Linked DNA regions of Homo sapiens. The protein of the gene in region 7 purifies or fractionates together with the protein of the main gene of each other region. This does not show direct contact. Each region holds a gene or a part of one and is shown on either strand. Other genes may lie near its edges.

Region 1 (4,097 bases), on a different chromosome or scaffold from region 7:
TGAACAAGGAGAACTGGACGGTTGTGAAGACTCTGCGGTAACTTGGGAGGGACCATGGCAGTGATCTCTGTTTACGATGAGTGCATTAAATGGAATATACCTTTTGACTTTTTTTTTCTTTTCTTTTGAGATAGGGTCTCATTGTCGCCCAGGCTGGAGTGCTGTACTGTGATCACAGTACCCTGCAGCCTTGACTTCCCGGGCTCAAGTGATCCTCTCACCTCCCAAATAGCTGGGACTACAGGTGCATGCTACCATGCCCTGCTGATTTTTAAATTTTTTTTTTTTTTTTTTTTTTTTTTTTTTAGTATTTATTGATCATTCTTGGGTGTTTCTCGGAGAGGGGGATTTGGCAGGGTCATAGGACAATAGTGGAGGGAAGGTCAGCAGATAAACAAGTGAACAAGGGTCTCTGGTTTTCCTAGGCAGAGGACCCAGTGGCCTTCCGCAGTGTTTGTGTCCCTGGGTACTTGAGATTAGGGAGTGGTGATGACTCTGAAGGAGCATGCTGCCTTCAAGCATCTGTTTAACAAAGCACATCTTGTACCGTCCTTAATCCATTTAACCCTGAGTTGACACAGCACATGTTTCAGAGAGCAGGGGGTTGGGGGTAAGGTTATAGATTAGCAGCATCCCAAGGCAGAAGAATTTTTCTTAGTACAGAACAAAATGGAGTCTCCTATGTCTACCTCTTTCTACACAGACACAGCAACAATCTGATTTCTCTATCTTTTCCCCACATTTCCCCTTTTTCTATTCGACAAAACCGCCATCGTCATCATGGCCCGTTCTCAGTGAGCTGTTGGGTACACCTCCCAGACGGGGTGGCGGCCGGGTAGAGGGGCTCCTCACTTCCCAGACAGGGCGGCCGGGCAGAGGCGCCCCCCACCTCCCGGACGGGGCAGCTGGCCGGGCGGGGGCTGCCCCCCACCTCCTGGACGGGGCAGCTGCCGGGCAGAGATGCTCCTCTCTTCCCAGACGGGGCGGCTGCTGGGCGGAGGGGCTCCTCTCTTCCCAGACGGGGCGGCTGCCGGGCGGAGGGGCTCCTCACTTCTCAGACGGGGCGGCCGGGCAGAGACGCTCCTCACCTCCCAGACAGGGCGGCGGGGCAGAGGCGCTCCCCACATCTCAGACGATGGGCGGCCGGGCAGAGACGCTACTCACTTCCTAGACGGGGTGGCGGCCGGGCAGAGGCTGCAATCTCAGCACTTTGGGAGGCCAAGGCAGGCGGCTGGGAGGTGGAGGTTGTAGCGAGCGGAGACCACGCCAGTGCCCTCCAGCCTGGGCAACATTGAGCACTGAGTGAGTGAGACTCTGTCTGCAATCCCGGCACCTCGGGAGGCTGAGGCTGGCAGATCACTCGCGATTAGGAGCTGGAGACCAGCCCGGCCAACACAGCGAAACCCCATCTCCACCAAAAAAATACGAAAACCAGACAGGCGTGGCGGCGTGCGCCTGCAATCCCAGGCACTCGGCAGGCTGAGGCAGGAGAATCAGGCAGGGAGGTTGCAGTGAGCCGAGATGGCGGCAGTACCGTCCAGCCTCGGCTTGGCATCAGAGGGAGACTGTGGAGAGAGCGGGAGAGGGAGAGGGAGACGGTGGAGGGAGAGGGAGAGGGAGAGGATTTTTAAATTTCTGTGGAGACAGGGTCTCACTATGTTGCCCAGGCTGGTCTAATTTAGAAGTTTTATTTATATGAAACAGTCCTAAGACAATAGTTTTAAAGGATGAAAGCATAATTAAAATGGATTTTCTTAGTTTCGGCTATACATTTTTCTTAGTAAAAAGTATTCAATTTTAAAGATACAGCTATCCTTTTTTTTTTTTTTTTTTTTTTTAGATGGAGTTTTGCTCTTGTTGCCCAGGCTGGAGTGCAATGGCATGATCTCGGCTCACCGCAACCTCTGCCTCCTGGGTTCAAGCGATTCTCCTACCTCAGCCTCCCGAGTAGCTGGGATTACAGGCCTGCACCACTATGCCCAGCTAATTTTTTTGTATTTTTAGTAGAGACGGGGTTTCTCCATGTTGGTCAGGCTAGTCTCAAACTCCCAACCTCAGGTGATCCGCCCACCTCGGCCTCCCAAAGTGCTGGGATTACAGGCGTGAGCCACTGCGACCGGTCAGATATAGCTATCCTTGAAAGTAGTTTTTTATAGCTATAGCTAATATAGTGCCAGTGGAAATTTTGGAATCTCATTTTAATGCTTAGTTCTGGAGATTGTCCTTATATTTTTGATAACTTGTCCGTTTTTGAGTTAATAATTGCTTTTTGTTTTGTTTTGTTTAGAGTCAGAGTCTCACTCTGTTGCGCAGGCTGGAGTGCAGTGGCATGATCTTGGCTCACTGCAATCTCTGCCTGCTGGGTTCAGGGGATTCTCCTGCCTCAGCCCCCAAGTAGCAGGGACTACAGGTGTGCGCCACCACACCTGGCTATTTTTTTTTTGGCTAATTTTTTTTTTTTTTTGAGATGGAGTCTCACTCTGTCGCCAGGCTGGAGTGTAGTGGCGCGATCTTGGCTCACTGCAATCTCTGCCTCCCAGGTTCAAGTGATTCCCCTCCCTCACCCTCCTGAGTAGCTGGGTCTGCAGGTGTGCACCACCACGCCTGGCTAATTTTTTGTATTTTAGTAGAGACGTGGTTTCACCATGTTGGCCAGGATGGTCTCGATCTCCCGACCTTGTGATCTGCCTGCCTCGGCCTCCCAAAGTGCTGGGATTACAGGCGTGAGCCACAGCACCTGGCTGATTTTTGTATTTTGAGTAGAGATGGGATTTTACTGTGTTAGCCAGGCTGGCCTTGAACTCCTGACCACAGGCAGTCTGTCTACCTTGGCCTCCCAAAGTGCTGGGATTACAGGGGTAAGCTGCTATACCTGGGGAGTAATTGCTTTTTTCCTCTTTGTTTTTGGATTCTAGGGGCCACTTAGAAGATGTGTATGATATTTGCTGGGCAACTGATGGGAATTTAATGGCTTCTGCCTCTGTGGATAACACAGCCATCATATGGGATGTCAGCAAAGGTAAATGATATATTTTTGTTATTAGCAGGAAGAAATATTCTAAGCATCTATAAAAGCCTAAAAGTCTAACTTGCTTTAACTTTTTTTTTTTTTTTTTTTGAGACAGGATCTCACTCTGCCGCCCAGGCTGGAGTGCAGTGGTGCGATCTTGGTTCACTGCAACCTCTGCCTCCTAGATTCAAGCGATCCTCCTGCCTCAGTCTCCCAAGTAGCTGGGACTACAGGCATGCACCACCACACCCAGTTAATTTTTGTATTTTTAGTAGAGACGGGTTTCATCATGTTGGCCAGGCTGGTCTCAAACTCCTAACCTCAGGTGATCTGCCCGCCTCAGCCTCCCAAAGTGCTGGGATTACAGGCATGAACCACTGCCCCTGGCCCTAACTTACCTTAACTTTATTTTTTATTTTTATTTTTTTGGAGACGGAGTTTCGCTCTTGTCCAGGTTGGAGTGCAATGTCACAATCTTAGCTCACTGAAATCTCCACCTCCCGGGTTCAAGCGATTCTCCTGCCTCAGCATCCTGAGTAGCTGGACTACAGGTGTCTGCCACCACACCTGGCTAATTTTTGTATCATTAACAGAGACGGGGTTTCACCGTTGGCCAGTCTGGTCTCTATCTCTTGACCTCAGGTGATCCACCCGCCTCGGCCTCCCAAAGTGCTGGGATTACAGGCATGAGCCACCACACCCGGCCTACTTGCTTTAACTTTAAAAGCAACACAAAAAATTGTTTTAGTGAACTAAAGTAGGTGGTTGGCTCAACAGGATAGGGGTTAGTCCCATATGCTATGGATTGTCAGAGGGTAAGAGGCTTAGCACTGGTGCTGCAAGTTACTGATGCTGAAGCCAGGCAAATCCCACATGGTGGGGCCAGCAGATAAGATGACAGGCCCGGGCCCTGCCTTTATGGAGGTTAGGATCTCGGGAAGATTAACAAGTCACTTATAATTTATAGGGCATTGCATGCTAGTTGATGGGGTAGGTGGGATCAGGTTTCCATTTTAGAAGATCAAGGAAAGCCAGGGACATTCTGTTCTCTAGTTGGGGAGACAGTGGACATGTGAAAAGTTATAGT
Region 2 (4,097 bases), about 33 Mb from region 7:
TTCCTACCTCATGAAAGGGCCTCCACTCCCAGCCTCTCTCACAGGAATATCTGCCCCAATGGCAGGAGCTTTGCGGTGATTCCCAGGAAGCCTGAGGGTTGTATCAGATGAGGACAACTAGCTAGGGCAGGAGGTGAAGGATGGCCTCAGGCCACCCTGTGAGAGCTATAGTTAGACTCCTAGAATCTTGGCCTTGTAGCCCCCAGTGACCTCAGAGACTGTCTGGCTACCATGTGGTAAATGAAGCTGTGACCAGAGATGTCACCTGACTTGATTGTGGTCACACATCCAGATAGAAGGTGGCCTCTGGGTCTCCAGCTTGCCTTGACTCACAACTAGAGGCCTCAGTGGTGGTCGTGAGGTCAAGGGTCCACATGGGTCACGGGCCCTACCTGTGGATAACTTGGCCAGCCAGGAAGGGCCCGCTTCTCAGGTGTGCGTCAGGCCAGAGGGCGCTGCGCTCAGGCTGGGTGTCCGGTGGTCAGCATCCTTCATGCACATTCCAGGACTCTGCTTGGGGGAGTTAACACTCCATCAGCTCTGATCCAGGTGGAGTTCCTGGGGCCTCCCTGGGTCTTAGGCCAGGCCTGTCCAGGTGGTGGCAGGGCCAGACACAGGCTGTTACCCCAGCAGCCTTCCCCTCGGGGTGTGGGAGAGCCCAGCTCTCTCCCGGGGGACACTGTGGTCCTAGGCTTTGCTTCATGATTCCCTTGGGCCCCCTTTGTTTCCTTTTGTTTCCTTATCTTTGTTGTGCTTTGAATGGGGGCCGCTGGCTCTTCGTTGAGGACTGAGGGGGTGTCCGACCCAGCATGGCACAGGGTGCAAAGTCCCTGTCTCCTCTGAGTGGGCTTCTCCCTCTGCAGAGGGGGAATGCTGATCCACCCTCTCCAGGGTGGCTGGAGATGAGCCTCTCTGGGTTGCCCCTTCCTGGCTGCCACTAGCCCCTAACCGTGGTGCCGCCAGCAGACGCACTGCTTCCCTGCCTTCACCCCCATCCCCATCACAGCTCTAGATTCCAAAACATTGGGGGCCATGAGTGTCCTCCCATCCCTTCTTCCTGCCCTGGCTCTCACACATCAACTGCGGACCCCCCAAATTCCCCCACACATGCACACATGCCCAGAGAGCTCGGGAAGTGAGAGCTGGTGGAGACTGTCCCTGCTGGGAGATGTCCCGGGAGCTGGCACCTGCCATCTTGGCCTGACCCAGTATGCTCCTTTCATCAGAGCTTAGTCTGTTTGAAATGGACCAGATACAGGCTGGGTAACCCCTCTGCTTACAGTCAGCCCCATGGAGCCTCATCTTCTCCTTTGATTCTTGTCGCTTCCCTGAAGAGCTGAGGATGTGCCCTTTCTGGGGCAGAGACCCGGGCATATCAGTAAAGACCTGGGGAGGTGCCCCACACCTCCACAGCTGAACACCTTCCGCTCTTCCCCACCCACCCCCCAGGAGGAATCGGAGAAGCAGCTCTGTCTGATTGAGGCGCAGACCATGGAGGCCCTGCTGGCTCTGCTCCCAGAACTCTCTGTCTTGGCACAACAGGTAGGAGGGGAGGGTGGTTCCCGGGGACCTCACAGTTCTCAGGGAATGTCCCCGGGTCTCACCGAATGTGTTTCATTGCAGAATTACACCGAGTGGCTGCAGGATCTCAAAGAGAAAGGCCCCACGCTGCTGAAGCACCCGCCAGCTCCCGCGGAGCCCTCCTCGGTAAGTGTGGCTGCCTGGCAAGGCTCCTCTGTTGGGCTCCCCTGTCCCCAGGAAGAGGGGCTGCCCCAAGTCATTTCAACGGGAAGCCAAGAGAAGAACCTTTGTGTGTGGCTAACTAAACACCTGTTCTTCCCTCTCTCAGGACCTGGCCTCCAAGTTGAGGGAGGCCGAGGAGACGCAGAGCACACTGCAGGCCGAGTGTGACCAGTACCGCAGCATCCTGGCGGAGACGGTGAGCATTGGGAACCTGTCAGCTGGGCATCCCTGGGAGGCTGCAGGGAAGGAGAGCTTCGGGGCCTATGGGGCAGGAGGTGGCCTGGTGTTTTGGAAAAGCCCACTGGCCTTGTGACTCTGGGCCCCGTTCTTCGGCTGCATGGTAAATGGATGGCACCCTCTGAGGTCGTCATTGTTTCTAAGCTGAAGAGAAGGCCAAGTTGAAGGTTCGGGGCCGGTCTCTAAGCTGGGGAAGGGGAAGGACGGGGTAAGCAGCTGGTGACTGCCAGGTTGAACCCCGTTTGTGACTAAGAGCAATGCCAGGTCTAGCCCTGCCACTCTCTGGCCAGCCCATCCTGTGCTCCTCGTCCTGGGCCATTGACACACTTGGTGCTGGTGGCAAACCCCGGCAGTAACAAGCATCCTAGTGGTCCTGTGCAGGTCACAGACCTCATTTCCTTGCCTGGCACTGCAGCCACACTGGCCCACTGGCCAGAGGACCTCCCTCCCAGGACAGTGGTTGCCTTCCCTCCCCACCTAACGCTGGCGCTCATGAAGTCAGCAGGCGGAGCACGGCAGGTCACCAGGGCTGCAGGGACAGGAAGATGCGGTTGTGTGGTGCGGGTCTCGGGAGGGAGAGGGCCCTGCCTCACCTCGGTTTCCCCCCAGGAGGGCATGCTCAGAGACCTGCAGAAGAGCGTGGAGGAGGAGGAGCAGGTGTGGAGGGCCAAGGTGGGCGCCGCAGAGGAGGAGCTCCAGAAGGTATATGCAGCCCTGCCTGCCTCCCGGCGCCGTGGAGCACATGAAGCCCAGGGGAGAGTTGACAGGATTGTCTCTGTCACCTGTGAGACTCGTGTGTCTCGGTGGGGCTTTTCCACGACACCCTATGAAGCACAGTTGCGGGATGACAGCTCAGTCCGTCCTCCAGGAGGCCCCCGCCTAGGAAGACACTGCCAGATGGCGCCAGGGTGACCGTCCCAGCTGGGCGGAGTGGGCACCCCCGGGGCTTCCTAAGTTGGGTCAGTCCCGCTCGGGTCCTAGCATGGCCTCGGAAGGAGACACCCCCAGGTGCTCGTGTCTGACGGAGCCTTCCCCTTGCTTTGTAGTCCCGGGTCACAGTGAAGCATCTCGAAGAGATTGTAGAGAAGCTAAAAGGAGAACTTGAAAGTTCGGACCAGGTATGTGCTCTGCTCAGAGAACTCTTTCTCTTGTCCCGGGAGCCTCTTTGAAAGTGACGTTAATGCAGAGGACACTTCACTGATTTCTTCCTCATGGACCGTGTGCCTTAAGAGAGGCATTCTCTCTCAAGCCAAGGGATCTTGTCCATCCTGTTTTTCCTTAATGAGAGACATTGACTACCTCAGAGGACCCTGAGACCCAGCCACGGGCCCTGTGCAGACCTGCCCAGCCCTGGTGAACAGGGCTTCTGCCACGGCCTTCACAGTCAAGGTGGCCCCACTGCCCCCTTCAGACGCCACAGGGAGCCCTGGAGAAGGTACCCTTGGTACCTGCTTTTGCAAGTAAATCTAAGAGCATGTCAGTCCCCAGGAGTGCCCGGGTGCAGCCTGCCACTTTCCGTAAGGGGTTCTCTTGCCGCGGACTAGTTTCTCGTTTGCTTGGTAGCTGGTGGGCCTCAGGGATCTCCCGAGAGGCCTCACCTATCCCAGGGCCAGCCTGCTCCCTGAGGTGAGTGCCCTTTGAGCAGAGGCTGCTGGCGCATGCGTGTGCGTGTCTGTGCATCTGTCCAGGTGAGGGAGCACACGTCGCATTTGGAGGCAGAGCTGGAAAAGCACATGGCGGCCGCCAGCGCCGAGTGCCAGAACTACGCCAAGGAGGTGGCAGGGGTGAGTCTGCCCCCCAAGGAGTGCAGCCCCTGCCCAGCAGATCTGCGGTCCTCCCTGAGCTGCTTCTCCTCAGCCCTGTGGGAGCAGCTCTCGGTGACATAAGCCTTGAAGTCCGAGTCCTCAGGCGTTTGCCCGAAGCCTCACAGGCCCCTCGTTGGGCTGTCAGGCCTGAGGTGTCTCTCAGGGCAGGTTTCAAAAAGGCAGCCTCCCAGCCAGGACAGGGGCAGAGCCAGGCAGCCCTGCCCCGAGGGAGGCGTTTGACGTTCTAGGTTATCCCTCCGCAAGGGGATTCTCTGCCTGGCTTGCTGATGTCATATCTGGTGGGGAGTGGAT
Region 3 (4,097 bases), on a different chromosome or scaffold from region 7:
TATTTAAAAATATTTGGAAGCATCCTCATATATATACTGTATCCTAATTCTTCCTGGATGCACAGCATTCCACCATATGAATATACTCTAACTTGTCCAGTTTCCTGCTGATGAATATTTGGCTTACTTTTTGTTTTACTCTGGCCCCTTTTCTTCTTTGACCAAATTTACTGTTTCTTTGCCCCTTGCTCGCTGCTTTTGCTAGTGATACCCTCTGCCTGGAACAGTCTTCCCTCAGATACCTGTGTGGGGAACTCCCTCACTGAGCCCAACGCTGCACACAAGATTTCACATCTCCATCCCCTGCTCTGCTGGTAGCACTCCCCCCACACTGCATAAAGTATTTCTCTAGCGTGTTTTTTGGCTTCTCCTGACCCCTGACCCCAGGTCCTGAGATCAGGAATCTGCTTTGTTCACTTATGTATTCCCAGAGTTCCGAATAATGTCTGGCACATAATAGATTTGTTGCATAATTGTTGTAATGAACACTGGTGTACATCTATCTTTTCACAATTGTGTGAGCCAAACGAATTCTTAGGAAATAAGTATACATTTAAATTTTTGAAGGATGACTAAATTTGCTCTAAAGTAAGTTTGTAACAATTTACATTTCCAAAGTGTACTCTTCTCTCCACCCCCTAAAACTGTCCTGGTTATGTTGCCAGTTTTTGTAATGTGTTTCCTGTCTGAGAAATTGTATCTCATTTGAATTTGCCTTTCCTTGATTGCCGATGTGAGTATCTGTGCTGGTGTTGATGCCGGTTGGTGTATTCTCTCAGGTTGCAGGGACTTGGCTCTTGCTTTTTTATTGACTTAACACATATACTTATTTTTAGATGTTGACTATCACGTTGCAGATGATTTCACCTGGTTTGACTTTCATTTTTTCACATTTTTCTTGGTGCTTTTTTCCAAAGCAATTTTTAAGCAGCATGTAGTCATGTTTGGCAGCCTTTTCCTAAATTGTCTCAAGTGCCTGCCAGTTTTTTAGAAAGTATTTGAACCTTTGAAGAACCCCTGGAAGCGTAGACGTTTTTATGCTAATAAATACTTTAGTAATTCCTACTTAAGGGAACTTCACCTTTTGTACTCTGCTATATTAAATTTCTTTGAGGTAGAAATGGGGGTGGTGTCAGGGTTAGAATGCTGTAATTCTAATCTCTAATCCTGTATGCGAAACATTTAGTGCTGGATTACAACATCTGAGATGAATCGAAATACTTCGAGCTTTTATCCCTTCCTTCTTGGGCCTCATTAATCACTTCTCTTCCTCCAGTTTCTCCTTGATGCCTACCAGTTTGTTCATTCTGCCCTATCTACAAGAACCTCTTGCCTCCTGCCAGCCTCTACTAGCTTCTTGCCTTCACCAGCCTTTCTTCTAGTCAGACACTTACTGGTAGCTGTTATCTGCCCTCCCCATGATCCTGTTCACTCAGGCTTCCTGTCATCCACCTGCAATTGCTCTCTCATGGGCTTGGCCAACAGTTCAGTTCTCAGATGTGGGCCCCACCTGTGGGGTTTGTGTGATTGGCAATTCTACTTCTGAAACTTCCCTTCCTTGGCTGCTGAACCACTGTGTTTGCTTTTCTATCTGCTGTTTTTTACCACCTTCCTTCCTGATCCCTGAAGGTCAGTATTCCTTAGTATTATTTTGATCACATTATTTCTGTGGCTTCTGATTTGCCCTTCCAGGTATCTTATTTCTTGTTGTGAACCACATTTACCCACAGGAGTCCTCTTTTGACCACTGATGGACTCCTGTCCTTCCAGCTCCCCTGTCTCTTTAAATGGTCCCACAATTCTTGAAATCATCCAGACTGAGAAATGTGTAAATTATTTTTTACTCATCACTTCTGACTCCTCTGCTCACTTTTAAATAGCTTACTAACTGTTTCCGAACTCTTCTCTCCTCCAAAGTGTAAGCTCCATCTTTATGAGGCCAGCATAGGACAAAAGATGAGGTTAGCATGGATGGATAGTAGACCAGGAAAGGGGCCGTAAGATGAGGACAGGTGAGCAAGTTCATGCTTCTTATTGCTCAGTTTCTCCCAGAGATAAGATGGTTCCTCCCATTTAGGAATAAGGATTTATGAAAAGACTGAAGGTCGAGTTACAGAGTAAAGGATGTAGAGAGGAGGGCCTTTTCTGGAGTTCTGAATTAGTGCAGACATTGTACTAAGACCAAATCTCTGACCATTCAAGGCCCTTTTTAGGTCACATTAAGGCTTTCCATTCTTAAAAACCAGAAAGCAAATCCAGTGCACAGTTTGAGGTCGGGATATTTTCTGCTCACGTTGCTCTTGTTCTCTCTTCCCTGAATGGCTCAGGTACTGAGGTGAGACCAAACAAAACTGTGGCCTGCCTGGTGCCTGTGAGAATGCCCACCATGCAATGAGCATTTGAGTGCTAGGGTTTTAATTGATTGACTGATGAATGCATTCGTATTTCAACTTCAGCCCAGTTCTTTCTCCCCTCAAGCCCCATCCCCCACACTACTGCCTGCTTGATAGGTCCGATTGTGGGATTTCACTGCTGACTGCTGGCTGCCTGTTGAATGAAATACAGATCCCCAGGTCGCTAGCCTGGTGTTGATGGAACTCTCCACTTTGTAATTCCAATTTTTGTTTCCTTATCCAACTGGATGTCTTAGATTCCAACCTTTTGAATTTCTTATTCTCAAAATGCACCCCATGTGTCCTCTCTGTGCCTTTGACGAGGTTTTGTTTTTTTTTCTTTCTTTCTTCCTTTTTTTCCATCTGGGGTACTTCTCCCTTCTCTCTGCTTTTAAGACTCCTGCCTGTTCTCCAGGGTCTTCTCATGCCTGTAGCTTCTCTGTGGCAATTACCCTTCTTGAGGCTGATTGTGGTGTGATTTCCATTTTAGCTGTTGTGCTGGGGCTATCGTTAGTCTTCCTGCTGCTTTGTACATTGAGGGTAGTGGTGCATTATTGCTAATGTTATTTTTATTCTGTACAGAGGATCCTCAAAATTCAAGTATAAATACCTTTCTAGCAGTTTTGTAAATTTTTTTTTTTTTTTTTTTTTTTTGAGACGGAGTCTTGCTCCGTCACCCAGGCTGAAGTGCAGTGGTCTCAGCTCACTGCAAGCTCCGCCTCCCGGGTTCACGCCATTCTCCTGCCTCAGCCTCCCCAGCAGCTGGGACTACAGGCGTCCACTGCCACGCTTAGCTAATTTTTTTGTATTTTTAGTAGAGACAGGGTTTCACCATGTTAGCCAGGATGGTCTCCATCTCCTGACCTTGTGATCCACCTGCCTCGGCGTCCCAAAGTGCTGGGATTACAGACGTGAGCCACCACACCCGGCCGCAGTTTTATAAATTTATTTGACAGTAACTTTCGTCATCAGTTTGATTATTGACATTTGTATGATTTCCAATATATTTCTTACAAGATGAGCTAGAATTGGCTACAATAACATACGCAGTTTGCTAAAATTGATCCTGGTTTTGTCATTCTCTCAGATTCTGGATGAAATTGAAGAACATAACATCAAAATCTATCACTTACCTGATGCAGAATCAGATGAAGATGAAGATTTTAAAGAGCAGACTAGACTTCTCAAGGTAAGAACTGGCTTCAGATCCACAACATAAATAACTCCTGTTTACTGTTGTCCATGTTGAGGTGAGAGAGATTGCCTGGGTATGTTCAGTTACGAGAGTATTTTTGCTTTCAATATATTTTAAGACCTCATGCAGTGGCTCATGCCTATAATCCCAGCACTTTGAGAGGCCAAGGCAGATGGATCAGTTGAGGCCAGGAGTTCCAGACCATCCTGGCCAACATGGTGAAATCTCATCTCCATCAAAAATACAAAAATTAGGTGGATGTGGTGGTGCACACCTGTAGTCCCAGCCACTCGGGAGGCTAAGGCAGGAGAATCACTTGAACCCAGGAGGCAGAGGTTGCAGTGAGCCGAGATCGCGCCTCTGCACTCTAGCCTGGCGACAGAGCAAGACTCTGTCTCAAAAAAAAAAAAAATTTGATACAGCTATCACCTAAAGCTTAGAAATTTTATTGTAGGTTTAATTTGTTTTCGTACAATTTGTCCCATGTAGAAAGTATCTGACACTTTTCA
Region 4 (4,097 bases), about 43 Mb from region 7:
ATTGAATTGCAGTGTAGTATACACTCAATCTTAAGACATATTTGGACCTTAAATGAAATCAGCACTGTAACAGCAGTGAGCTCTGCATTGCCAATAAATAGTTTCCTTCTCAAACACACATGGAGAAATCCCATTTAAGAAGGTCACAGAGTCCCTTAGGACCCTAGGAGATTTCAGATGGAATGGAAGGACAAGGAGCAAGGTGTTCCAACCAATGTAACACAACACCTCAAAGGTCACGAAGGTCTCATAGGAGCATGACTGCCCTCCAGGTCTGCCTCAAGGCTGCACACTCCCCTGTGTGAACCCACTGTGAGCCAGACAAACACCAGACAGTTCCTTCATTCCACAAATATCCCCTGAGCATCAGCACCTCCCAGTGCCAGGCCTATGCTCTCCCCTAGGGAAAAAAATAATAATGATAATTATAAAGCTATAGCCCTCCAGAAGTCCTGCTCTAGTTGTAATATAAACAAGGCCTATCTACCTCCCTGCACAAGTAATATAGATCTGGCCTCTCAGTTGACACTGTCTTGCATTCTGCATCGTGCTTGAGAGCAGGCAACTCACCCTCTACATTTCCTTCATGTCTACCATATTCTTGTTCTTCCATGGTCCATGATTTCTATGAGAGGCCATGGGACAAGCCTAAATAGGAATCAGCAAAAGACAACATTTACACGTATGTCGAGAAGAAGAAAAGGTGGAGTAACAGATATAAAGAGTCTTGCTGAATGCAGAAATGTCACTTACTCGACAATGAAAAAAAGACCTTTAACACCATACCTGAATACCTGTCTTTCCACATGCATGTTTCCACGCTGACTGACTGATGTAGAATATCTTTAAAGACTATAGAGCATACATTGCCCCCTCCTTTTTTTTTTTTTTTTTTTCGGAGTATCGCTCTGTCGCCCAGGCTGGAATGCAGTGGCGCGATCTTGGCTCACTGAAACCTCTGCCTGCCTCCTGGGTTTAAGTGATTCTTCTGCCTCAGCCTCTCGAGTGGTCGGGATTACAGGTGTGCACCACCACACCCAGCTAATTTTTGTATTCTAGTAGAGACGGGGTTTCATCATATTGGCCAGGCTGGTCTTGAACTCCTGACCTCAAGTGATCCACCTGCCTTGGCTTCCCAATATGCTGGGATTACAGGCGTGAGCCACTGCGGCTGGCCTGCCCTTTTTGTCTCAAAGCAGCAATGAGGTTTTCCAATGCTCACACATCTTGCACAGTGTAGACAAAAACGGACTGTACATACACCATGAAAAAGAGCTATTTTGAAGACAATAGCTCAAAAACTGAGTTTGCAGGGATCTAAGCTTCATATGTATGAATCCTAAAAATAACAGAGATTCTTTGGAAAAGTCTATCAATCTCTTCAAACTTGTATTCATTTAGACTCTATTAAAAGCTTTTTGTTGGCCACGTTCGGTGGCTCACATCTATAATCCCAGCACTTTGGGAGGCTGAGGCGGGTGGATCATGACATCAGGAGTTTGAGACCAGCCTGACCAACATGGAGAAACCCTATCTCTACTAAAACTACAAAATTAGCTGTGCGTGGTGGCACAAGCCTGTAATCTCAGCTACTCAGGAGGCTGAGGCAGGAAAATCGCTTGAACCGGGGAGGCAGAGGTTGCGGTGAGCCGAGATTGCGCCATTGCACTCCAGCCTGGGCAAAAAGAGCAAAACTCCGTCTAAAAAAAAAAATAAAAAAATAAAAAGTTTTTTGTTGTTGTTGTTGTTACTAAAAGGACCCTGTTCGGGGACATCATGGTAGACTGGAAAGGACACTGAATTTGGCCAGAAGACGTAGTTTTAAATTCCTATTCCAGATCTACTTAGTTATGTGCCCTTCGACAAATCACAATCACTAGCCTCGATTTGCTTCTACGTGAAATGCAAAAGACAAACGCTTGCTCTTTTTCCTACCACCCGAGGTGGTCTTAATGACTGAACAGGGGTAAGCAGGGCTGCTATATAAGCATGAATGCCTGCTATTAGGACTTAGTCTGGATTTTGAATTCCAGAGGAAATATTACAGCAAAACTTCATTTTACTCAACAGTAGTACTGAAGGAGAAAACTATGTAGGATACTTAGATGATTATTATATTTAGGACTGAAAGCTGTGAAATCCTAGAACCGCAAAAGGCCATATCAGCCAGGATTTGGTGCGAGAAACAGAAATTTCTCTTGAATTTTGAAGATAAAGGGACTTAATATAAAGTAAGCACTTGACAGAAAAACTGGAAGGGTTGGAGGAGCAGGCTTTAGGTTGGCTCTCCATGAATGATCTCAGAACATAGCAGCACAGACCCTTGGGGAGAGCTATTGTATCTACCACATTCAGAAAGGTGAGAAATCAAGAAGGAACTCCCGGGGTCCAAACAAAACACCAGCTTTGTTGAAGCCAAAGAAGTGTAAGCTGCCAACAGGGAGTGGCCACTGTCACCACTGCCTCTCAGAGACACTGAAGAACTATTACAGAAAGTCCCACCTCTTTTAGCTTCTCACGTATCTGTAGAAACAACCCAAAGGATGCAGGAAATTGGCCCCTTTAATGTTTCTGCCCTCCATATCTCATATGCATGAATTTATTTGGTGGAAATATTAATTTTCAAGAAGAATGTTCGTCAAAAAGGAGTCTGGTAAATGTAGCTTTAGAAGTCCAGATTTTGTATTATAAGAAGTCCTACTAAGAGGATGTAGGAATCGATGCTATGTGAGATTCAACCATATCCAACACAGCACACCTGGGGAGGATCATGATTGGCATCTTTAACATTTTTTGACCAGATCAATTGCTGATTCGCTCTATGGTTTTCCAGCTTCATGAGCTTGTATGGCTTCTTCTATAAAATGGATTAAAATTAAATTAAATTTCCCTTACTCTTAACTATTTCATAGACAACTTCCAAAAAAAATGTTTTTTTTAATGGCAAAATAATATCTTAATCTTCTAGATATCAATGCTATATATTGATATCCATGTGACTACTTCAGGTAAATGTTTTCTTTACTAACTAATCCACTTTCTGTGATCTTGTACATTAAACGTCAATTCAGTAAAAAGAAACAGAACATTAACCAAATATTGTAAACAAAAAAAGCCCTTGAAGGCCGGGTGCGGTGGCTCACACCTGTAATCCTAGCACTTTGGGAGGCCGAGGTGGGCAGATTACCCGAGGTCAGGAGTTCCAGACCAGCCTGGCCAACATGGCAAAACCCCCGTCTCTACTAAAAATAAAAATAAAAATAAATTAGCTGGGCATGGTGGCATGTGCCTGTAATCCCAGATACTCCGGAGGCTGAGGCACGAGAATAGCTTGAACCCGGCTGCAGAGGTTGGCAGTGAGCCGAGATGGTGCCACTGCACTCTAGCCTGGGTGACAGAGCAAGACTCTGTCTCAAAAAAAAAAAAAAAAAAAAAAACCCTTGAAATAAAAGACAGATGTAGGATGCTTTTATTTCTGTTTTAATATAAATAAAATAATTTTAGTATAAATAAAAATAACTTTTTTCCAATTTTATATAATAGTTTGTTACTCAATTTATAATAATTTAGTTTCTTGATAAATGCATAGATTTAGTCAACCTCAATTAATAGGTACATGCAAACCATTTTTGGAATACAAATTGAAATAAAAATTTTGAGAATTAACACATGGTAATGATAATAAAATCGAACATTAGCTCTTAAAGAGATCAGAGGAAAACCAGAGAGACTCTTAAAGAACATAAGCATCCTTTATAATCTATTCCAATTAGTTAGTTCCTTTATATCCTATTTCAGTTAGTTAGTTACAAAAATCAATGGCTTTTTTATGGTCATATATGTAAATGACCTCAGAAATATGTCTATATTTCCTTTGCCTACTTACACATAGGGGCACAAGGCTCTGCTTAGGGGGATCAGACATAGAACAGAAAGGGAAAAGATTAGATGGAAAAGACTGTGAAATATGCCTGAGCATTTGGAATTTATGATATGATCTGAAAGGTTGCATGAACCTAATTATTAGCTCCAGTAACAAGAAGACCAATGATTTCAGTTACCAGGGGTTTGTTATTTAAGTGGAGACCCATAGCGTT
Region 5 (4,299 bases), on a different chromosome or scaffold from region 7:
GAACTATGATCCACTGCCAGCCTGGGCAATGGAGTGAGACCTCCTTTTTTTTTTTTTTTTTTTTTTAATGACCTTTAGTTTATGGGACACTCTTACGGAGAAATATTTGTGGATACATAAAAATTGTGTAGTTTTTATTAGTTTATTATACTTTTATTAGTTCAGTCTCAATAAAAGGTTGAAAGGCATTACGATAAATTTGTTCTTGTCTGTTTATATCATTTCTTCTTGGCTGCTCACTGAGTCTTAATCAGTGTACTAGACTGCAAACTAAAGAATAAGATTGGGGGCAGGTTATAAAAAGAACATGTATAAAGCTTAGCAAACCCTTTTTAATGTTCTGAAGTCAGTCTTTGTAAGTGAAATCGCTGGAGACTAGAAAGTATGAAATGGCAGTCTACCTGGGCAACCTACAAAAAATTTAGCTTGAAAAGACTTCAGTCTCCGCTCCCCTGTTGATCTCATGGAGTGGGGAATGGGAATTGAACCAGAACTGGAAAATTATTTAGGAAAGTTTGTTAACTACTCTTTGTTGATCTCATGGAGTGGGGAATGGGAATTGAACCAGAACTGGAAAATTATTTGGGAAAGTTTATTAACTACTCTTTCTGCTGAGTAAATTTAAATGTGTTCTGGACATTGTTGAGGTCTAGAATTGTCTATACAATGCCCTGTACAAGCTACATTGCTGTCATTTTCAAAATCAGGAGTTTATTTGGATTACATATACTTTGTGCTTAATTTTAAGTAATGATTACTTCAAGACTGGTGAATTATACGTGACTTTTTGTGCCTGTTCTTTATAGGCTATGGAAAGGGCAAATGGAATGGAGCTGGATGGTAGAAGAATTCGGGTGGATTATTCTATAACCAAGAGAGCGCACACACCAACACCAGGCATCTACATGGGCAGACCAACTCAGTAAGAGTTCAAGTTTCCTAAGCTAAACTATGAAATCCACCAGAAATATGTGCAAAATTTTGATTACTCAGAAACTTTTTTCCTATAATTAGAATTGATTCTGGCAAGGGGCAACATGGCAAAACCCTGCTTCTACTAAAAAAAAATAAAAAATCAGCCAGGTGTGGTGGCACATGCCTGTAATCCCAGCTGCTCGGGAGCTGAGGCACAGGAATCACTTGAACTTGGGAGGCAGAGGTTGCAGTGAGCCTGGGCAACAGAGTGAGACTCTTTCTCAAAAAAGAAAAAAAACATAAGTAGGGGTTTTGATAATGTTTTTAAATATACAACCCTCCTGGCTGGCTCACGATGTTCATTTGCCGGGCGCAGTGGCTTACACCTGTAATCCCAGCACTTTGGGAGGCCGAGGCGGGTGGATCACGAGATCACGAGATCGGGACCACGGTGAAACCCCGTCTCTACTAAAAATACAAAAAATTGGCTGGGCATGGTGGCAGGCACCTGTAGTCCCAGCTACTCAGGAGGCTGAGGCAGGAGAATGGCATGAACCCCGGAGGCAGGGCTTGCAGTGAGCCGAGATCGCACCACTGCACTCCAGCCTGGGCGACAGAGCAAGACTCCGTCTCAAAAAATAAAAATAAAATATACAACCAAAGGCAGTATTCACAGAGGTATTTCTTGGGAATAAAAGAAGGAATATAGTCATTCCTTGGTATTCTCTTTGGTGTCCAGAGTTACTTAAAAATTCTTGGTGTTTATTGCCTTTTAGTCACAGGGATACACCTTTTATTCATTTATTTATTTATTTACCAGTCTCATTTAGCAGTAGGAATGCATCTTAGCATTTTTATACTGCTGCTCAACACAGTGCTTCATCGTTTCAATTTGTTGAAAAGATTTTAATTTGGGCAGTGCATTAGTAGAAAAGCAGTTAATAGTTTTGAGAGTTTTGTGAAGCCCTTCTTGATTATGTATGTAGGGAATAAGGCAAACCAGAATACCATGGGAGTCAGTAAAATGAGATACGGAGGCAATTTCTCATGAAAGGGATGTTCTTCCTCACTTTTCTCTTTTTTAAGCCATTCAATTTGTATTAAAGTGTCCTGGAAAATAGTCATTCACACTAATGGAGAATTTTTACATTTTTCTGCAGTAGTGGTGGGGGTGGTGGAGGAGGCGGCGGCGGTGGAGGTGGAGGTGGTGGCAGACGTCGAGATTCTTACTATGATAGAGGATATGATCGTGGGTATGACAGATATGAAGACTATGATTACCGATACAGGTAATGTTTTAACTTGAGCTTTCTGTTCTAAATTAGATGATAGTAGTGTTACTTGGCACTTTTATGTTGGATACATATGAATAAAAACTTGATTTTTAAAATAGATCATATATGACGCCTTTGGGAGCAGAAGTTAGCAGTCTGTATATGTCAGTATTTTGTTGTGCTATATACTTTTCTGGTCTCATTGGCAGAAAGAGAACTTAATATTAAGTAGTTATCACCTTAGGTACATTATTATTTTGAATGATGAGGAATTTTTATTTTCATCTGCCTCAGTGGAGTGATTATATAGTATGCTAAGTAATCTTTCATTTCTTACAGAAGACGATCACCTTCTCCTTATTATAGTCGATATAGATCACGATCAAGATCTCGTTCCTACAGCCCAAGTATGTGAACTTTACTTTTGTAGCATAAAAAACCTCATTTCTAATTAATGGCTTACTTTAGAATATTAGAGTATAAGGTGGAAGGTGGCAGTTAATAGTTGGAAAAATATGAGGCAAATTAAACTATAATTGTTAACTTTTTTTTTTTTTTTTTTTTTTTGCTTTTTCTCTTTTAGGACGCTATTGATAACGGAATGGTTGCAATTAAGGACATTTTTTTTCCTCTTTTTTTTTTTTTTTTTTTTAATTCTGAGATTTCCCCAAGCTGTGGATTCTTCCTACTCCTTAAGAAAAAAACTTTGGTTTATTTAGCATCTACACTTTTGTCAGTTGTGTTGCTGTTTTCCACCCATTTTATTATACTCTTAAAAGATGTAATTGTTGTCATTTTGAACAGTTAAACATCTTGAGTATAAAAAGAACCCCAATGTTATGTTATGCTTTGTAAATTTTTTTTTTTGCTTTTACCTAGATAAACTTCTAGCTAATCAAATAAGGAAAGAAACTGTCTTTTTAAAGCTTCTTTTGTGTTAGATACTGTATTAGAGATCTGCATTTATCATGAGTTCCTTTTTTTTTTTAACTTTATTTTTGGGAAAGTAACACATGAAGTAGTTCAGTCATGTCAGGTTTGTCTGGGGTGGAATGGAACAGTCAGGTAGTTGAAAGTTTTTTTTTAGAGATGAAAAGCTTGTGAACTCCTGTAAAACATGCTGTATTTGAAATACATCTGTTAAAACTTAAAAACTAAAGTGTGATTTTTTTTGTTGTTGTTAAGTTTATTGAAGTTTATTCCCTTAATCAGTGAAGGACAACCCTTATTTATTACCTAGAGCAGTTGTATAATTCGCTGTTAGAAATTTTGGTATTGGGACAGTGGATAAGCAGGTTATCACATAGCATAGAATTCTTAAAAGATACATGTGGGGAAAAGTAGTCTCAAATAAAAGCTAATTTCTTTGAAAATGGGATTGTCTCTTTATTGTGGTACCATGGAGAAATATGATTGAGGAACTGGTCCTTCCTTTTCCCTCACATCCCCCCAGTGTGTATTTATATGAAAGTTTACCCATCCTGAGTTTTAACTTCCCAATATTTCTCATTTTTAAAAATATTTTTTCTTACACTAGAATGTTATTCCTTGTCTTTTCTTTGGTTCTTTTAAAACCCTTGTTTTTCTTCTCTTTTGGGGGAGACCGAATTGTAAATATTGAGAATATTCAGTACCAGCACCATGCTGAAGGAAAGATAGGTAGCTAATACCTTTTTTTTTTTGAGACGGAGTCTTGCTCTGTCACCCAGGCTGGAGTGCAGTGGCGCGATCTCGGCTCACTGCAAGCTCCGCCTCCCGGGTTCACGCCATTCTCCTGCCTCAGCTTCCCGAGTAGCTGGGACTACAGGCGCCCACCACCACGCCCGGCTAATTTTTTGTGTATTTAGTAGAGACGGGGTTTCACGGTGTTAGCCAGGATGGTCTCGATCTCCTGACCTTGTGATCCACATGCCTTGGCCTCCCAGAGTGCTGGGATTACAGACGTGAGCCACTGCACCCGGCCTACTTTTTTTTTTTTTTTTTTTTTTTGGAGACAGAGTCTCGCTCTGTTGCCCAGGCTGGAGTGCAGTGGCGTGATCTCAGTTCACTGCAAGCTCCACCTCTCTGGTTGACGCCATTCTCCTGCCTCAGCCTCCCAAGTAGCTGGGAC
Region 6 (4,097 bases), on a different chromosome or scaffold from region 7:
CAGTTCAATTCTGTTCTAACCTCAGACACAGAATAACATTAGGGTCAGGTTGGTGTCCCAAAGTGCCTGACTCCTCCCTGGAATTCTCCCACCTGTCCACCAGGGAAGACTGAGAATCCTCCTTTTACTTGGGAGCCCTGTGATGGACACCTCCCCGGGCTTGGGCTCTGCAGGCCCACACAGAGGACAGAGAGATGTGCCGAGGTGCCTGCGTTATGGGCCCTCTTAGTTGGACTTTCCTCTGCTGCTGCAGGCCCTCAGCCCCGGCAGTGGCAGCATGGTGCTCCAGATCTCCTCCCAGCAGCTAGCTGCTCCACCCCACCACCCTTCTTGTCTGTGACTCCTTGGAGAGGATCCAGGAGCCATGCAGCAAGAAGCCTGCAGACCTGTCACCTCCCACACTGGAGAGGCTCCCGTGAAGCCCGGCCTCAGCAGTCATTTCCCATACCATGATTCTTTCTCTGTTTAAAAAAAAAAAAATTCTTCCAATGATATCTTTATGAAAACAGAAAGAGAAGCATCTGTGTTTCCTTCTAATTACATCTTGTAGCTGCCTGTTTGATTTGCATCTTTCTAAGATGGTTGACTTTACAAGTTATCTCAATAAAAGTGGCCAGATGCCTAACTCAGAACCAGAGCATTTTGAACCACAAAATGGAATTGAAATTTTGGCCCAGAACAAGCTGGTTCTGTTATCAGGCCCCTGGGTGGGGCAGGGGGCAGCCAGCCAGGTCCTAGACATAACTTTTGGGGGATATGGGGCTTGTGTCCCCTCAGTGTCACAACATGCCTCACAGTGGACTTCGCATGCGTTGATATTTGAAGCACGATCATCAAAACTTTGTGATAATTGATCGTAGTGTTTAGTAACAATGTAAACACTTAAAAAAATTCAAGATAGAAAATAAAAATGAAGGCAAGTTGGGACTGCCAGAGAAGACCCGTCACTCCTCATCCAAGTTATCTGCGACTCCCATATGTTTTGTGTCAAAGACTCACCTTTATTGTGCTGTCCAATCCCTTCCCCAGTGCAGAAACAAGTCTCCCATGGAGGGGGCTGGGGCAGACACAGTTTGCTGAAAGGAGCAATTTTGAGTGGTTGTGGCATTCTGTGTCCATTTCTGGCTCCACAGCTTTCTTCATTTGTAGGAACAAGTCCTTGTCCTGTTGTTAGTGGCTGATGGAAGTTGTCACCCACCAGGCACCAAGGCAGGAGTGACCCTATACTGTCTTTCTTGTGGAGCTGGGTCTTGGCAGCCAGATCTTGATTCAGGATCTGCCATGCCTCTTCCTGACCACAGCCCCGCTCCTCCATCCTCTGCAGGTGAATGCCCAGGCCCTTACCAGTGCCTTCTCTCCACACACCAAGCCTTGGATTGGTCTGGCAGAAGCTCTGGGGACACTGATGCGAGCCTGGGCTGGGTCCCCCAAAGGGACCATCCAGGTGATAACACAGGGTGAGCTGGGGACCTTGCAGAGGGAGGGGGAGGAGGGGATGAGGGAGTGTGGGATCTGCCCTGCTGGGTGTATTTGCTGCAGGACACAGGGTTAGTGAGAGGCAGTGAGGGTGCCTTGGACCCTGCCCTGAGTATAGCTCCCTTACTACTGGTGGGAGGGTGGTAAAGGGAGGGGTTAAAAAAAGTCGTTGGAAAGATGTACTGAATATTCATAAATCATGTTTATGTAGCATTTTTAAGACCTAGATATTTTGGGTGCAAGAGAAACCTCTACGAGAGAGAGAGTTTCATGCGAGAGGTCGTAGGATGGCTGGAGGGAGGCCCTAATTAAGCAACAGGATGCTGGATTCTGGTTTTTGGCCCTGTCTCTTCCCTGCTGTGTGACTCTCCCTTCTGAGGCTTGGATTCTTCACTTGTAAAGTGAGAGTTAGGGGCAGATGAGCCAGGAGCGGTGAGGACACTTTGTGCTCTGTAACTTACTAAGGTGGTACCTTGGGCCGTCTGACAGCCCTCGAGAGAGAGTTTGCTCAGCCGTGGAGTGGGAATGAGAACAGTGCCCTCTGACCACCCCTCGGGCTGCTGAGTGGGCTGTGGCCACCTTTGCAGTGGATCCAGTACTGTGCGGATGTGGTTGAGTGACCAAGGAGGGCTCCAGTTTCCTTAACCCTGTAGACGTGTATCTTTCCCCATGGACTCTTGGGTGTCTCACAGTTGGGCAGAGATTGCAGGGAGAGGGCAGCTAAACCCTAGGCATTGACAATACCAGGGAAGGGCAGAGCCAGGGGGTCCCACTGGCCTGGGTGTCCAAGCGCCGAAGGAAACAAGGCAGGGAGCTGGGCAGCAGTTGCTTCGGTTACTTCTTTCTGCTTTGATTTCCTGAGGCTGGCAAGGCTCTGAGTGCCAGGAAGGGGTAAGAGTAGGGAATTTTCCTGTGTCCCCTGGGAGAATAATAGGTAGGCCAGGATGGCCAAGCCAGGTGCAGGGTTGGGGAGCGGAGTGGAGTTGAGCTGAGTTTTGGAGAGGAGTTTCTCAGGGTGGTTAAAACATCCTGGGTTTCCTGGCTTGGGCCCAGATTATGCCTCTTCTGAGCCCACTGAAGGGCGAGTGGACCTGCCTGGAGCAAGCTGCCTTTGGGGTCCCCAGGGCAGCGAGGAGCCCATAGTCCAGAGCTAGGTGCCAGTGGCTTCCTGCCCCCTCCTGTAGTGCTCAACAAACAGTGACCTCATGGTAGCTTCTCTCTGTCCCCAGGAACATCCCTGAAGAATGCTGGGAACTGCCTAAGCCCCGCAGTCATTGTCGGCCTCCTGAAAGAGGCTTCCAAGCAGGCGGATGTGAACTTGGTGAACGCTAAGCTGCTGGTGAAAGAGGCTGGCCTCAATGTGCGCCCCTCTCCCCCACGCTGCCTCCCCATCCCTGTCAGCACTAGTCTTCTCCCCCACATTTCCAGAGCCCGTTCTCTGAGCGGAGGCCTAGGTCCCAGCCTTGCATCGGCCTGTCTACCTGTGAGGGGTAGCTGCAGTTTCTTCAACTGCAAAATGAAGATACTGCCTGGCCCCGAGTGTTGCTAATGGCACTGCTTTGTGTATGAGTGCTGTGGGAATGGAGGCAGTAGAAGTGTCCCCATTTCACAGCCAAAGAAAATGACGAGCTAGTGTGTTTGACTCTGCCCGACATGGCTGCCAGGCCATGTTTGACTCTGCCTAACTCCCCTCAGGGCTCCTCATGCCGTAGCACCCGGGTTCTTGATTCACTTGCAAGCTCTAGGAGCCCTGCTGCCTTGCACGGCTTCCCGTTGGCGCCTTCCCCTCTGGTTCCCTGTTTAGATCAAAGTCTGTTTCAAAGCCTGTTGCTCAGCCAGTGGGAGCTGGCAGAAGGGATAGGCAGTAGAGCTGCCATGTCCTCACCCCTCTGCTCCCCTCCACTCCTGCATGCCAGTCATGCCACTGATGCCGTGCAGGAGGCTGTGTCAGAGCAGGAGGGGCCAGAGTGGAGTCTCCTCACAGCCCTGCCTCCCTGCTTTTCTTTCCTCCCTGTTTTCCTCCAAGCCTTCGCCTGTGCCTGGCAGATCTCTTTGCCCTCCCTTTAAGGAGATCATTGGCTGTTCCAGGAAGCTGATGCCGAAGGGCACACAGCTTGGCCCATTTGCCCTCTCCCTTCTGGTCCTGAATTACTGAGCACATTATCCAGGCTGGAGCCCTACATCCTACCAATGGGTGATTTGGCCAAGAGAGGAGGGTGGACGTGGTGCAGCCAGGAGGTGTAACAGTCACCTTGCCTTCTCCACACAGGTCACCACCTCCCACAGCCCTGCTGCACCAGGGGAGCAAGGCTTCGGGGAATGCCTCCTGGCCGTGGCCCTGGCAGGCGCCCCTTACCAGGCTGTGGGCTTGGTCCAAGGCACTACGCCTGTACTGCAGGGGCTCAATGGAGCTGTCTTCAGGCCAGAAGTGCCTCTCCGCAGGGACCTGCCCCTGCTCCTATTCCGGACTCAGACCTCTGACCCTGCAATGCTGCCTACCATGATTGGTGAGGAGGGCCCTGTAGGGCTGGCTGGTGTCCTTGAGGCTGGGGTGGGGTCTGCCCTGGAATTGAACTCTACCCACCTTCCTTTAGCCCCTCTTCATGTCCCAGGGTGTCTCT
Region 7 (4,097 bases):
TGCTTCAGGATGCAAAAATGAAAAAGCCCATTTTAGGGAGAAAGGCACAAGTTAATGCTATTGAGAATGTTTTCGTGAAGCTACTGCTGTGGCTGAAATTCAGAATCACATCTAAGATTTAGCCATCTTGGCCACTGACACAAAGTAATGGATCAGAAGCTGAGTCATGTTAAAATTTAAAAATGACATGCTACTTACTTCTATATGTTCTTTACAGTATTCCAACCCAATGTCACTAAGTATTTTTTTCACAGTTTTCCGGGCTTTTCTTAAACTGCCAAGATTGTTGACAGGAAGTTGGAACATAGTTTCTATTGGAAAAAAAAATTTAAGTCAAAGTCAAAACACGTACAACTTGTAATATTTACTAATTCCACTGATGATAGGATCATAAAACCTACCCATCTGACAAAAAAGGTGCATAGATATCCTCATCTAGTGTGTACACACACAGACACACACCTGCTTTCATGTGCATATGGCTTGATATATCCATCCATCCATCCTTCCTTCCTTTTCTTAAGACAGAGTCTTACTCTGTCGCGCAGGCTGGAGTGCAGTGCACTCATGGTTCATTGACTGCAGTGCACTCACGATTCACCATAGCCTCAACCTTCTGGGCTCAAGTGATCCTCTCACCTCAGCTTCTCAAGAGGAAGGGACTCCAGGAGTGCGCCACTATGCCCAACTAATTTTTAAAATTTTTTTGTAGAGACTAGGTCTCACTATGTTGCCAAGGCTGCTCACAAACTCCTGGACTCAAGCCATCCTCCTGCCTTGGCACCCCAAAGTGCTGGGATTATAGGCGTGAGCCACTGAGCCGAGCACATATCTACTATATTTTGAATACTTAAAGCAGGCAGGCAAAATAAGTACTCTCTGATTTTCCCAGTTTTTAACAGGACATTTTGACTATGAGTCTAATCTGGCATAATTCTGATAAGACTTAACAACAGTTCAGTAATGAACTTCAAGATGAAAATTAGAGAAATACTAGCAATCAATTATTTTTAAATCAAGTGTTAGTGCTTTTCTCATTTTGATGTTGAACATCTGAAAACAGAAAAATGCTTACCAGTTCATCATCATTACAGTTTTGAGTGCCAGGGTAAAGAGGTTTTTGTTGAATTGGAACTGTCCTGCCTACTGCTACGGTATTCTTTAAAACAAAAACAAAAACAAAAACAAAAACAAAAAAACCTTAAGTTTCTGTATACTCCCCAAACTAAATACAGTAATGATATGTGACTCGACCAATGCATGCCCCCACTCCACCCCTGCCTGCAACGTACCTGGGCAAAGGTACTCAAAAATGTTAACTGTTACAGACTTTAAGGAGGGTACTTTTGAAAAAAATGAAAAGCCTGTATGTGTCTAAGGGAACTCAAAAATTATTTTAATGACCTAATACATTAAATTAGAAATTCATATCAACTTTCCCAAGTTCCTTAAAACAGAAGTTTGTCTTTAATGAGAAAATAAAATCAGTAAAACCTGGGCAGCTGAGAATATGTATGGTTTCTAATGAGATCAGAAATGCTTCCCATAATATGGTAAAAATTTATCAATTTAATAATCCAAATCTAACACAATTTCGCAGGATATAAAGTAGTTCTAAAACCCAAAACAGCAAAAACAAAAGACAAAGCACCAGGAATTAAAATTTAATATATGCAAATCCAGTTTTCTAATTAACAAAGGCTGTTACTCTGTAATACCAATATCATCTGTAAATGGCAAGTCAACTAATCCAAATGTAATAAAATGCTGCCTCATTTATTATTCTAATCCAAAATCAACGTTAACTATAAAAAAATGGAAAATAAAAGGAGAAAGAGTGAAATCTACCAAAATCAAAGAGTAACCCCTAGAAATTTTGAAACTGGGTACGTTACTCTAACTTAGAAGTCTCAAAATATTCTATATGAAGTACCAAAGTCTAATTGGGGCCGAAAATGAAAAGTATTTCAAAAAAACCTTCTAGGCCTTATCATACTCAAGATAGAATTGCTGCTCACTATGAAGCAATGACTATGGTGTCCCCTGCTCTCTCTGCTATGCTAATAATCTGCATATTGTGAAGCCAACTACAGACTTAGAAGTCACTTCTGATATAAATTAAGACCAAATCAATTATTTTTTGTCCAAATTTTATTGCTAAATTGTTTTAAACCATCTTTTGTGGTGGCTTAAAACCAGCAAATTCTTTATCACTTGCTTAATTTAAAACAGTTAGTACACACTGGGCATGGTGCCTCACGCCTGTAATCCCAACACTTTAGGAGGCCGAGGAGGGCAGATCACGAGGTCAAGAGATCGAGACCAACCTGGCCAACATGGTGAAAACCCGACTCTACTAAAAATACAAAAAATTAGCTGGACGTAGTGGCACGTGCCTGTAATCCCAGCTACTCGGGAGGCTGAGGCAGGAGAATCGCTTGAACCCGGGAGGCAGAGGTTGCAGTGAGCCAAGATCGCACCACTGCACTCCAGCATGGCGAGAGCGAGATTCCATCTCAAAAACAGACAAACAAAAAACACATACAGTTACTACAAACCAGGTCTTTTAGAGAGAAGCACATGTTAGAAAAATATTTCAGAAATACAGAAAAGTGTCACAGGCTAATTCTGAAGAAACCAGGTATTAAAATGGATGCCCACAGATACCTAAGACTGGGAAGAGACATCTTGTTTCTCTGTTCATTTCATAAACTCTCTATGGGCCAAAATTCAGTTCTTTGGGAACTTCCTGAGTTAACTCTGCTTCACACTTCATAACAGATGTGTCCAGAAGCCAGCCATTAATGGTTTCCCTGCCTCCTGGATGAGTGGCTCAACAATCTCAGAAAAACAAAGACATAAAGATTTGGAAATGCAGCCACCACTGGGGTCATTAGTCTATAGAAAACATAAAAAAGAATCAAGCGGCAGCTTGGGGGAAAGAAAAACCCATTCTTCTAAGTGCCTACCCACAGCTTAAAAAGTCGGTTTAAGACATTAAGATGAAGCATCTCACTGCCTGGTAGGTATTTTTTTCTGAAAAAGTGAGTATGCCCATAAGGGAACTTAGTTGTAAGAAACTTGTAATTTATAAAAAGCGGTATTTCAGCCACAGAGTTGGTGTTGGGTTTACTTATCTATTTTGAATTTAAAAGGCTTATAAATAAAGCAGTGACACTGCTTACTGGGAAATGCTGTACCAAAAAATGTTATCTTGCTGTAGGCTTGGCAACTAGGAGAAATCTGTATTTTTTTTTTGAGACAGGGTTCCAGTTTTTTTTTTTTGTTTTTTTTTTTGAGACAGTCTCGCTCTGTCACCCAGGCTGGAGTGCAGTGTCACGATCTTGGCTCACTGCAAGCTCCGCCTCCCAGGTTCACACCATACTCCTGCCTCAGCCTCCTGAGTAGCTGGGACTACAGGCGCCACCACCATGCCCAGCTAATTTTTTGTATTTTTAGTAGAGATGGGGTTTCACCGTTTAGCCAGGATGGTCTTGATCTGACCTCGTGATCCGCCCATCTTGTGATCCGCCCATCTCAGCCTCCCAAAGTGCTGGGATTACAGCCACCGCGCCCGGCATTTTTTTTTTTTGAGACGGAGTTTTGCTCTTGTTGCCCAGGCTGGAGTGCAATGGCACAAATCTTGGCTCACTGCAACCTCTGCCTCCCAGGCTCAAGCAATTCTCCTTCCTCAACCTCCTGAGTAGCTGGGACTACAGGCGCGTACCACCACATCGTGCTAATTTTTGTATTTTTAATAGAGACAGGGCTTCACCATGTTGGCCAGGCTGGTCTCAAACTCCTGACCTCAGGTGATCCACCTGCCTCAGCCTCCCAAAGTGCTGGGATTACAGGCGTGCACCACCATGCCTGGCCAGGAATGTATGTTCATGTTAACTCACGTTAACGCCTGGCCAGGGTTCCACTTTTCATCCAGGCTGGAGTGTAGTGGTGTAATCATAGCTCACTGCAGCCTTGACTTCCTGGGCACAAGTGATCTTCCCACCTCAGCCCCACCAGCTGGGACTACAGGTGCACACTACCTAGACGCCTGGCTATATTTTGTGTGTGTGTGTGTGTTTTTTTTTGTAGAGATG

The links.
Region 1: the proteins of ADNP (region 7) and CHAF1B purify together in Homo sapiens (affinity purification with mass spectrometry, with the first as the bait; one large-scale study listed by BioGRID). This does not show direct contact.
Region 2: the proteins of ADNP (region 7) and RRBP1 purify together in Homo sapiens (affinity purification with mass spectrometry; one large-scale study listed by BioGRID and IntAct). This does not show direct contact.
Region 3: the proteins of ADNP (region 7) and SEPTIN2 fractionate together in Homo sapiens (co-fractionation; one large-scale study listed by BioGRID). This does not show direct contact.
Region 4: the proteins of ADNP (region 7) and PLCB1 purify together in Homo sapiens (affinity purification with mass spectrometry; one large-scale study listed by BioGRID and IntAct). This does not show direct contact.
Region 5: the proteins of ADNP (region 7) and TRA2A purify together in Homo sapiens (affinity purification with mass spectrometry; one large-scale study listed by BioGRID and IntAct). This does not show direct contact.
Region 6: the proteins of ADNP (region 7) and PHGDH fractionate together in Homo sapiens (co-fractionation; one large-scale study listed by BioGRID). This does not show direct contact.

What each region holds. Positions count from the first base shown.
Region 1 is NC_000021.9:36,391,632-36,395,728, forward strand, and holds part of CHAF1B (chromatin assembly factor 1 subunit B), read left to right. Parts: coding exon 1-37; intron 38-2,915; coding exon 2,916-3,019; intron 3,020-4,097. UniProt on the Homo sapiens protein: Acts as a component of the histone chaperone complex chromatin assembly factor 1 (CAF-1), which assembles histone octamers onto DNA during replication and repair.
Region 2 is NC_000020.11:17,619,300-17,623,396, reverse strand, and holds part of RRBP1 (ribosome-binding protein 1), read left to right. Parts: intron 1-1,449; coding exon 1,450-1,542; intron 1,543-1,623; coding exon 1,624-1,707; intron 1,708-1,849; coding exon 1,850-1,939; intron 1,940-2,589; coding exon 2,590-2,682; intron 2,683-3,026; coding exon 3,027-3,098; intron 3,099-3,668; coding exon 3,669-3,764; intron 3,765-4,097. UniProt on the Homo sapiens protein: Acts as a ribosome receptor and mediates interaction between the ribosome and the endoplasmic reticulum membrane.
Region 3 is NC_000002.12:241,339,512-241,343,608, forward strand, and holds part of SEPTIN2 (septin-2), read left to right. Parts: intron 1-3,480; coding exon 3,481-3,582; intron 3,583-4,097.
Region 4 is NC_000020.11:8,138,422-8,142,518, reverse strand, and holds part of PLCB1 (1-phosphatidylinositol 4,5-bisphosphate phosphodiesterase beta-1), read right to left. Parts: intron 1-4,097.
Region 5 is NC_000007.14:23,504,043-23,508,341, reverse strand, and holds the end of TRA2A (transformer-2 protein homolog alpha), read left to right. Parts: intron 1-806; coding exon 807-922; intron 923-2,075; coding exon 2,076-2,204; intron 2,205-2,528; coding exon 2,529-2,596; intron 2,597-2,772; coding exon 2,773-2,783; 3' UTR 2,784-3,562; downstream 3,563-4,299. UniProt on the Homo sapiens protein: Sequence-specific RNA-binding protein which participates in the control of pre-mRNA splicing.
Region 6 is NC_000001.11:119,739,062-119,743,158, forward strand, and holds part of PHGDH (D-3-phosphoglycerate dehydrogenase), read left to right. Parts: intron 1-1,324; coding exon 1,325-1,457; intron 1,458-2,705; coding exon 2,706-2,836; intron 2,837-3,745; coding exon 3,746-3,983; intron 3,984-4,097. UniProt on the Homo sapiens protein: Catalyzes the reversible oxidation of 3-phospho-D-glycerate to 3-phosphonooxypyruvate, the first step of the phosphorylated L-serine biosynthesis pathway.
Region 7 is NC_000020.11:50,903,691-50,907,787, forward strand, and holds part of ADNP (activity-dependent neuroprotector homeobox protein), read right to left. Parts: intron 1,160-4,097; 5' UTR 1,076-1,159; intron 312-1,075; coding exon of another isoform or gene 307-311; coding exon 199-306; intron 1-198.